Linked DNA regions of Homo sapiens: region 1 is linked to region 2. The links come from fine-mapping of genetic effects on gene expression. A gene starts in region 2. The other region holds a variant in brackets. All regions are shown on one strand. Distances are from middle to middle.

The links. PIP is the estimated chance that this variant, and not a neighbour inherited with it, causes the effect. A credible set is the group of variants that fine-mapping cannot tell apart.
Region 1: its variant is the best candidate, but not a certain one, in a credible set for the expression of COX18 in whole blood (INTERVAL, PIP 0.60).

What each region holds. Positions count from the first base shown.
Region 1 is chr4:72,909,184-72,914,567 of GRCh38, reverse strand. No RefSeq gene overlaps it. Among named protein-coding and RNA genes, the nearest start is that of COX18, 160 kb to the left of the region's middle. The variant T/C (reference allele first, on the strand shown) is at 2,049.
Region 2 is chr4:73,067,371-73,072,754 of GRCh38, reverse strand. It overlaps COX18 (cytochrome c oxidase assembly factor COX18), which reads left to right and starts at 3,039. Exons shown (of 6, transcript NM_001297732.2): 1 at 3,039-3,438; 2 at 4,626-4,726. The coding sequence starts at 3,106. LOC112268467 (a long non-coding RNA gene) reads right to left here and starts at 2,809. Exons shown (of 2, transcript XR_002959797.2): 1 at 2,726-2,809; 2 at 933-1,042. RefSeq lists enhancers at 2,688-3,204, 2,751-3,270, 3,205-3,720.

The DNA.
Region 1 (5,384 bases), 160 kb after region 2:
GCAGCAAGAGAAAACGAGGAAGAAGCAAAAGTGGAAACCCCTGATAAACCCATCAGATCTCATGAGCCTTATTCACTATCATGAGAATAGCACAGGAAAGAATGGCCCCCATGATTCAATTATCTCCTCCTGGGTGCCTCCCACAGCACATGGGAATTCTATGAGATACAATTCAAGTTGAGATTTGGGTGGGGACACAGCCCAACCATATTATTCTGCCCCTGGCCCCTCCAAATCTCATGTCCTTACATTTCAAAACCAATCATGCCTTCCCAACAGTCCCTCAAAGTCTTAACTCATTTCAACATTAACCCAAAAGTCCACAGTCCGAAGTCTCATCTGAGACAAGGCAAGTTACCTCTGCCTATGAGCCTGTAAAATCAAAAGCAAGCTAGTTACTTCCTAGCTACCATGGGGTTACACATATTGGATAAATACAGCCATTCCAAATGGGAGAAATTGGTCAGAACAAAGGGGTTACAGGCCCATGTAAGTCCGAAATCCAGTGGGGCAGTCAAATTTTAAAGCTCCAAAATGATCTCCTTTGACTCCAGATCTCACATCCAGGTCACGCTGATGCAAGGGGTGAGTTCCCATGGTCTTGGGCAGCCCCACCCCTGTCGCTTTGCAGGGTACAGCCTCCCTCCTAGCTGCTTTTATGGGCTGGCATTGAGTGTCTGTGGCATTTCCAGGCACACTATGCAAGCTGTAGGTAGATCTACCATTCTGGGGTCTGAAGGATGGTGGCGCTTTTCTCACAGCTCCCCTAGGCATTGCCCCACTAGGGACTCTAGGGGCTCCAACCCCACATTTCCTTTTGGCACTGCCCTAGCAGAGGTTTCCCACCCCCTGCTGCAGCAAACCTTTGCCTGGGCATCCAGGCATTTCCATACCTCTTCTGAATCAGGTGGAGGTTCCTAAACCTTACTTCTTGACTTCTGTGCACCCACAGGCTCAACACCACATGGAAACTGCTATGGCTTGGGGCTTCCACCCTCTGAAGCCACAGCCCAAGCTGTACGTTGGCCCGTTTCAGCCACGGGTGGAGTGGCTGGGACACAGGGCACCAAGTCCCAGGTTGCACACAGCACAGGGACCCTGGACCCAGCCCACGAAACCACCTTTTCTTCCTGGCCATCTGGGTTTGTGAGGGGAGGGGCGCTGAAGGTCTCTGACATGGCCTGGAGACATTTTCTCCATGGTTTTGGAGATTAACATTAGGTTCCTTGCTACGTATGTAAATTTCTGCAGCCAACTTGAATTCTTCTCCCCAGAAAATGGGTTTTTCTTTTCTATTATATAGTCAGGCTGCAAATTTTCCAAACACTTATGCTCTGCTTCCCTTATAAAACCGAATGCCTTTAACAGCACCCAAATCGCCTCTTGAGTGCTTTGCTCCTTAGAGATTTCTTCTGCCACCAGATACCCTAAATTATCTTTCTCAAGTTCAAAGTTCCACAAATCTCTAGGGCAGGAGCAAAATGCCACCAGTCTCTTTGCTAAAACATAACAAGGGTCACCTTTACTCCAGTTCCCAACAAGTTCCATATTGCTATCAGCATTTTGGGCAAAGTCCAACAAATCTCTAGGAAGTTCCAAACTTGCCCACATTTTCCTGTCTTCTTCTGAGCCCTCCAAACTGCTCCAACCTCTGCCTGTTACCCCTTTCCAAAGTTGCTTCCACATTTTCAGGTATCTTTTCAGCAACACCCCACTCTACTGGTACCAATTTACTGTATTACTGTGTTTTCACACTGCTGATAAAGACATACCTGAGACTGGGAAGAAAAAGAGGTTTCATTGGACTTACAGTTCCACATGGCTAGGGAGGCCTCAGGATCATGGTGGGAGGTGAAAGGCACTTCTTACACGAAAGCAGCAAGAGAAAATGAGGAAGAAGCAAAAGCAGAAACCCATTAGATCTGATAAACCCATCAGATCTCGTGAGACTTACTCACTATCATGAGAATAGCACAGGAAAGACGGGGCCCCATGATTCAATTATCTCCCTGTGGGTTCCTCCCACAACACGTGGAAATTCTGGGAGA[T/C]ACAATTCAAGTTGAGATTTGGGTGGGGACACAGCCAAACCATATTACCACCCATCTCAGGTATGCTTGTAATACTTGGAAATTCTGGGATTGATTTTCTATCCTTCTCATAGCCAAAAGCCAAATAGTATTCATAATTCATTGCCAGTTTCACCACAAGTCCAAGCTTTTACCAAAGATTCCAGTACCTGAATCCAGAATTTATTCCTTACAGATTTTCTTTCTCATAAGGTATTATTTATGTGAAGCTCTTGAAATTGGATAGCATCACTTTTAATTTAACCAAAGACAATAGCAATACATCAGATGCTACTTGTGGGGAAGTATCAGTACAAAAATAGTGGTCTTTTCAGGAAAAATTAAAAGTGCATGTTTGGGGATGGGCTGCCAATTCCTAACAATAAAATCAGATTTCTGGGCAAATGAGTTCTGTGTAACATGTAGCTTACAATGCCCTTTTATTTACAGATTGAAGGGTTCCAGTTGATCTGCTTACTGTTGTATTATGTTCCTCTCAAACAATAAGGAAAATACATCCACAAAGGTGAAGTATAGGGGAGATTATTATTTTCTCCAAATTGGCAACTACAAGATGCCAATTGCCAATGGAATGCACAGCTCTTAGATTACTTTGGATTCTCAGTAGGGGCTAAGAAGGAAGGTCAGGTAAGATACTTTACATCAAAGACTGACAGTTAATGGAGTTAGATCAACCTTATGGGGAAGGGAAAGGCAGGGCTTGTGACAATTTTATTCCTAAAAGAATTTCTGCCTTGTTTTTAGCCATGATGTTAATTATATGGAGCAAGAAATAATAAAGTCAATGGCTAAAATAATGAATTGGTCATTTTCATAGGCTTCTATTGTCTTCTTTTGTCAAGCTTCTCTCTTCATTCCCCATTACGCAGTGGTTTTATCCTTCATTATAATGACTTTTCCTGCGTCACTTTCTCCTGAACCTCTTTCAAACACTAAGAATGAAACTAAAAATTTTATTTTGGTGGTAGTGTCAGTGACTCATTATTGTTCCATTTGTTATCACTTCTAGGTAACATTTATAATTTAAACGATAGTTTTGTGCACCTCTATCCCAAACGGTGACCAATAAAAAGCAGTTTAGGCTCTCCTTGGTGTTACTCTAACTACCACACCTCGACTCTGATAAGAAGATAGATTAAAACAGTTTTTTAAGTCTTAGAATTAATTCAACAGATATTTATTTATTTATTTATTTATTAGAAGTTTGCTTTGTCACTCAGGCTGGAGTGCAGGGACATGATCATCGCTCACTGCTCTTTCAAACTTCTAGGATCAAGGGACCCCCTGCCTCAGCCTCCTGAGTAGTTGGGACTACAGGTGTATGCCACCATACCAAACTAATTTTTTTTAAAAAATTGTAGAGATGGGGTCCCATTGTCCTGCCCAGGATGGTCTGTAACTCCTGGGCTCAAGTGTTCCTCCAGCCTCAGCTTCTCAAAGTGCTGGGATTACCAGCATATGTCACTACCCCCGGCTTCAACAGATAGCTAATGAAAACCTACTATTTGCCAGGGGCTATTCTAGCTGCAGGAATACAAAGATGAAGAAAATACAACCTTTGCCCTCTGTGAGCCACTAAAGATGTTGCTGGTATGGAAGTATTATAGTTTTCTGAGCATGTAGGGCTTTTGGTGTAGTTTCCTTAATGAAGCTGGCCCAAAGATTTTATAATGCCTAACATATAAGAAGCTTCCTAGAAATACTCACTAGAATACTTTTAATCATTTGTTCCATCATCTTCCCAAGTTTCACTGTATTCAAGGCAGCTGCTGAAAACCTCTCTCATTTTCTCAGCTACATTTATCTTCTCATTAACTCACCTATTGTGCCTTCTCCAAATGGCTCAACCACTATTCTTGCTCACACTTGCAGAGCTCAGGAGTGCCCACTTCCCATCTACTCCCCTAATTTGTGACTGTCCTCATTACGCACAGCTCTGGAGAAATCTAGGTCTTCTCCCATTCAGATTTATGTCCTCATAAGCAGTTCTTCTCTTGAAATCATTATTGACTAAATGCTATATCTTATTGCATGCTAATACTAATATTAAATGAATAATCAATGCATGACTATCATCATATCATGACAGGAACTATAGACAATGCATAAATGAATGGATGTGGCTGTGTTCCAAATAAGACTTTTCTTCCCTCAGAAAAACAGGTTATAATTTACTGACCTCTGATGTAAAGGCTTGTAGGCCATTGTAATGACTACAATGGCTTTTTTTTTTTCCTCTGAGGACAAAGAATGCTTTTAGAGGGTTCGGAGCAGAAGAGTCACATCATCTGCCATTTAAAAAGAACCACTCTGGTTCTGGGTTGAGAATTGACTAAAGGGAAGTGAGGTCCAAGGAAGAGAGCAGGTAGTGGGGATTATTGCAGAAGAGGACGGTGGCATGAAAGCGAGAAGTCATGGGATTCTGGAGACATTTACAGGATTTGCCAATGGATTGCATCTGGGGTTAGTAAGGGTGTGAAAGGGGAATGGCCAGTTGGAAAGCAATTAGGTATTCCTGATGAGGGGTGGTGCTGGCCTGGCCTGAACTAAAATGATGGCCTATTAGTTTTATACCAAAAAACTGACTTTGTACAGTTATGAAGCAGGGAAAGGGTGACGATGGAGAGTTGTTCCCTGATACTCTTTTTAAATGGGAAAACTGTTGATCTGCCTCATTTCCTATCTGTGACTTTCTTCTGGGCTGCTAAAGCAACCTGAGGAAACTGAATGGAGAATGTGAGGAGTTGTTGATAACATCCCTCCCAGCTCTGCACCTGCAAATTCTAGCCAGAGTGGTGAGAATCCTCCTACCTGTAGGGGGTGGTGGTTGCATGCCTAATAAAACAGAGAGTAGGCCAAAGTCGAGTTGATTCCTTCATTGCACAGTTTAGTATGTGGAGAGCAGAACCTTAGTTATATTCCTAATGAGTTATCAACATAGTTAATGAAATTTAAGATGCCTCTGATTTCTGATACATCATTATTTTTTTACCTGCTAAAAGAAAATCACAGTCAATTAAACTAATACACAATGCTTCTTATCACCTCAATTGTGAGACAATTTCTGATTTTAGAGTTGTCAAAAATGTTAAAAACATGCATCTTAAAGGAAACATAACATGCTAAAAAAGAAAACATAATAACAACATAAGCCGAAAATCAAATGAAAACAGGGGCTTTTGTACTGAATGTCTTCATTAGACTTTAGTGCTTTTTGGAGATTGACTCTAGTATTCACCATATATGAATTTTCACAATAAGTAATATAACTGATAAAATATATTTTAATAAATATCC
Region 2 (5,384 bases):
GGGGATGTCTTTCAATAAAGAGAAAAAAGCCAATTCTAAATTAGGTAGCTTTGGTTTTGAGAAGTAGTGCCTTAAGTAAGAAAGAAAAACTGAAATCTTAATCTGATTCTAAGGGATCACTAACAATTGCTCATGGAAATAGTTTATTTCTTAAAGGTGTTTTGTTGTTGTTTTATATATACCCTAGTAAGCTACAGTCATTTAGTTTGACAAACATTTCAGAAGGCATATTTGGGAAAAGAGAAGACTAAATGATTACATGATAATTACACCCCATATTCAAATTTTCAGCACTTAATTCAGGCTACTACAACAAAAATACTGTTGACTGAGGAGATTAACAGAATGTGTTTCTCACAGTTCTGAGAGCTACAATGTCTAACGTCAACATGCCAGCCTTTATGGTTTCTGTTGAGGGCCTTTTCTCTGGTTTGCAGATGGCTGTTTCCTTTTCAGTTTCTTTGTGTAGGGCAGAAAAAGGTCATCTTGCTTTTGTCTTTTCCAAGAGACAGGATCTCTGTCACCCAGGCTGGAGTGCAGTGGCATGATCATAGCTCACTACAACCTCAAACTCCTAGGTTCATGTGATCCTCCCCACTCAGCTTCCCAAAGCACAGGGATTTACAGGTGTAAACCACCATGCCCAGCCTTGTTTCTTCCTATGAGGGCACTTACCCAATTCAAGAGCTCTACCCTTAAGACGAATTACCTCCAAATACCATCACCTTGGGGTTTCAAAAAAGAATCTGGGGAGGACAAAAATATTCAGTCCATAGCAAGCTCCATTCCTGTGTTTGGCACCATGATGGTTAAGAATTACAGAGACTGCAGAAAGAAAATGTAATACGTAGTCTCTTCTTAAGGAATTTAAAGTTGAGAAATTAACTGACATAACACTAATATCAAAGACTGGAATAAGCTAATTATAAATGTTGAACCTTTAAAAATGTTTTAATACATTGCACAAGTTCATTTGCAAAGAGGATTGACAAATGATTTCAGTTGGTCCACTCAATAGTTGTAGATCATTTTGTACTGTACTCTGAAACAAAAGATACAAAATAATCACAATGTTGTATAAACAGTACCTATACATTAGTAGTAACACTTTTCTTTTGCATTGGGCTTTAAAATTGACAACTACTTCCCCCAACATCCTCTACCAAGTAGATAGCAAGTTCTAGTCATCCCTGTTATATAGATTAAGAAATGTGTTTATACACATATATGAAATTAGCAGAAACTAAATATTCATAAATTTTATTTAGATCAATATTCAAACTTAAGGAAATACTTTTTAAAATAAGAATGTAATATATGAACACAATGTATAGCAAAAAATGTGTTCCAACACTGAAATCTCATTTGTGACCCCGATAGAACTCCACAAAATTAAATCTTAGGAATTGAAGAACAGCTTACAGCTTTTTTTTTTTCTTTTCTTGCTTTTTTTTTTTTTTTTTAAAGAGATGGGAATCTTGTTGCTACCCAGGCTGGAGTGCACTGGCTCGATCATTGCTCGCTGCAGCCTTGGACTCCGGGGGGCTCAAGCAATTCTCCCGCCTTAGCCTCCTGGTAGCTGAGACCACAGATGCAAGCCACCACATCTGGATGATTTTTGTATTTGTTGTAGAGATGAGGTCTTGCCATGTTGCCAAGGCTGATCTCTAACTTCTGCCCTTAAGGTATCCTCCCATCTTGGCCTCCCAAAGTGCTGGGATTACAGGCGTGATCCACTGTGTCTAGCAAAAATAACTTTAAAATTCTGTTCAGATTATGAACAGCTGAACAGTAGTCAGTAGCAACTGATGGCTTTTTTGTTAGCTTAATAAATGGATAAAGAAATAGATTGGTAGGTTTTTCTTTTAGAAAAAGTTTATATATAGTGTGTGTTGTGCTGTGTGTTTAAACACATTTAAAAATTCATGTATAGATTTATCAGTCAGTTTGGAAAGCAGATGAATTCCAGAATCCTGAGAAAGTTATCGTAGGGTACCCTTGGTTAGGTGCACAGTGAAGGGCAAACAATAGCTGGCGTTTGACATTACCCAACATTGTTGGAGGCTTCTTTTCCTAAGTAAGTAAATAAATAAATAAATAAAAATCAAGGTTTACTCCTCACAACATATTTTAGTCTGTAGTCTAGGGGTGACCCTTCGGTGAGGAAACTCCTCCACAACATTCCATTTTGTTGTTTCCAGGAACACAAAAGTTAAAACTATATAGTCCATGTAGATTCAACGTATTCCTTTAAACCAGAAGACAGCCAGTGCTGCTGTTCAGGCTCTTTAAAGCTTATATAGGATACAAGTAAACTCAAGGAATTCACCGTACTGCCAGTGATAGTTTCCCTTAAATAAAGAGATGATACTTTTACTATAAGATTTTTGCTGCTATTTATCATGGAAGACAAAACACCGAAGAAATTCAGTTTGCAGTTGGTGGTCCAAATACTAACTGGAACAGATGGGCCAATTAAATCTACAAGAGACTGAACTATCCCTCGTGCTTAACACTCAGAGTCAGCAAGAAACATGCGTCTCTCTACAAGCAGGTACTTTAGCAACGTGTGACTCTTGAGTATGATAATCTATCGTAATCGCTAACGGAAGCAATCAGGTGCACGTAAAGAGGTTGGGGATCAGCTTCTGGTCACAAAAAACCGAGCAAGGATAATTCCACTACAAATGACTATTAGCTTTAGTGAAAAAGAATGGTAAGTTACACGGTGTAGATGAACTTTACAAGGCGAGAGCTCCCTAAAGAACACCCAGCCTGGCGGAGGGCAGCAGGCTCCACCCATGTCTCTGCAGTTTTGGTCCGGCCTCGGACTAACTACACCCTAGCAGCGGGAAACTTTCGCGTGTGCGCAGTAGGCCTGTCCAGTGCCGCGTGGGAAAGGCGGGACTTTCCTATCTCTTGCGTCACATCCACTGCGACGCAAGACGTCACCGGCTTGACTGGGAAGGTCAATCGCGGCTGCAGGCAGGCGCGCATGCGCTTTATGCCCGCTGTTGCTGGCGCGTGCGCGTATCAGCCTTGGCTGGCCGGTGTATGTCCGCTGGATTGTGAGGCCCGGGATCTGGGCTCCGCCGTGGTGCAGAAATGCTGTGCCGGCTCGGCGGTCGGTGGCTGCGGCCGCTCCCTGCCCTGCAGCTTTGGGCTAGGGACCTGCCGCTTGCGCCGGTTCCTACGAGCGGCGCCAAGCGCCCCACTCTCCCAGTGTGGGCAGTGGCACCAGTCTCTGCAGTACATGCGAACGGCTGGTACGAGGCCCTGGCCGCGTCTTCGCCGGTGCGGGTTGCGGAGGAAGTACTGCTCGGCGTGCACGCCGCCACGGGCCTGCCCTGGTGGGGCAGCATTCTGCTCTCCACCGTGGCCTTACGGGGTGCTGTCACGCTGCCTTTGGCAGCCTACCAGCACTACATCCTGGCCAAGGTGAGGGGCGCCGAGCCGTGCGCGTACCCTGCGCTGCAACCCCTGCGGCGGAGGAAGGCCGACATTCACTCAGGGTTTTCGATCGCACGATGTTGCCTTCTGCAGTGCTTAGTGTTTAATCATCGTGACCATTTCATTGTGACCATTTTAGCGTTAAAAAAAATTGAACTAGCATTAGGTGTGTTAAATAAGATACTTTGTGACACGTGTACCTGTCATTTCTTTTGTCTTACTGGATTTGTGCTCCAAGCACAAGTGGTTACTATACTTGCTCTCGGGGAACGGAGACAAAGAAATCAGTCGCAGAAGAAATTGTGTTGGCGAAACCTACAAAATTTATGTCTTAAAAGTTTTAATAGCCAGTATGTCTGCAGTGTCTTTCGTCCCAAAGTATTCCAGCTGGTCTTTCTTATTAGGAAGAAACTACTAGACTAACAGTTTGCGAACTTGTTTCCTCTCCAGACCCGACTAAGACTGTGTCTGGTTGGTCGCAGTTACTTGACCTTTTAATGCTGAATCCTTTTTTCTGAGGAATCAGGCTAGCAGTACCTTCCTTGCCTACTTCACAGCGTTATCAGAGCAAGTCAGATAATACGGGTTAAAGTGCTTGATTATTCAAATGGGATATTTCAAAAATAGTGGCTTTCTTGTTTTCAGGTTGTGAGCATGGGGAAAAAAAACCGGAAACAAAACAGGAACGGAATCAGCAGCAACATTAAGGCAGTGAGCCATTTTACAGGAAGAATGAGCACAGGGCAGGAATAAATGCTATTTTTACTTTTGATTTGTGGCTATCACAGTGTATTAAAGGTTCTTAACAAACTGCTGTTTTCTCCGCTTACGTTACTAGGAAATGTAGAGATGGAACAGTAAAGCCCAGGGTGCAGTTCTTATCTAATATTTGTAACCCTGTGAAGTAGGTGCTGTTATATATTTTATATGTGAGGGAACATGATTTTAGAGGTTAAGTTACTTGCACAGGATCACATGGATAAGTATGCATTGTGAATTTGGTTGTGACTGAGGACATTTTAAGCAAATTAACATCTTGTGCTTAGAATTAAGATTTCTTGATATGATCAGTAAACTACATTTTTAAATGACTCGAGGGAATAATGTGAAAGATTATGAGTCATTATGAATAAAGATCCTTTATGTGCTCATAACAAAACCTATTTTTTAGCTAGGTGGAAAATTTGCAGCCAGAAATAAAAACTATTGCCAGGCATCTTAACCAAGAAGTTGCAGTTCGTGCAAATCAGTTGGGGTGGTCCAAAAGAGATGCCAGGTAAGCTAATTATATCCACGTAAGACCATACGCACACATACACACACACACACACACACACACACACACACACATACATAAATTGTGATGTTAATTATAAGTTTGAGTATTCTGTAGTTTTGGCAGTAAAGTATTTCTTTTTTTATATATATATATATATATATTTTTTTTTTTTTTTTTTTTTTTTGAGACGGAGTTTTGCTCTTGGTGCCCAGTCTGGAGTGCAATGGTGTGATCTCGGCTCATCACAACCTCTGCCTCCCAGGTTCAAGCGATTCTCCTCCCTCAGCCTCCCAGGTAGCTGGGATTAACAGGTAGGCACCACCATGCCTGGCTAATTTTGTATTTTTAGTAGAGATGGGGTTTCTCCATGTTGGTCAGGCTGGTCTGGAATCCTGACCTCAGGTGATCCACCCTCCTCGGCCTCCCAAAGTGCTGGGATTACAGGCGTGAGCCACCGTGCCCAGCCTACTCTTTTATATTTTCATAAGTTATTAATATGGCATGATAGTTTCATATGCTGGACTGAAAGCAAAGAAATAAATAGATAAAGATAAGAAGAGTATGTTCCTATTCTTTAGGGATTCCAGCCTATTGAAAAAGACAGACCTGTAATCAAATAATGATGTCAGTGAACTAACTGTTATATAAAGATGAT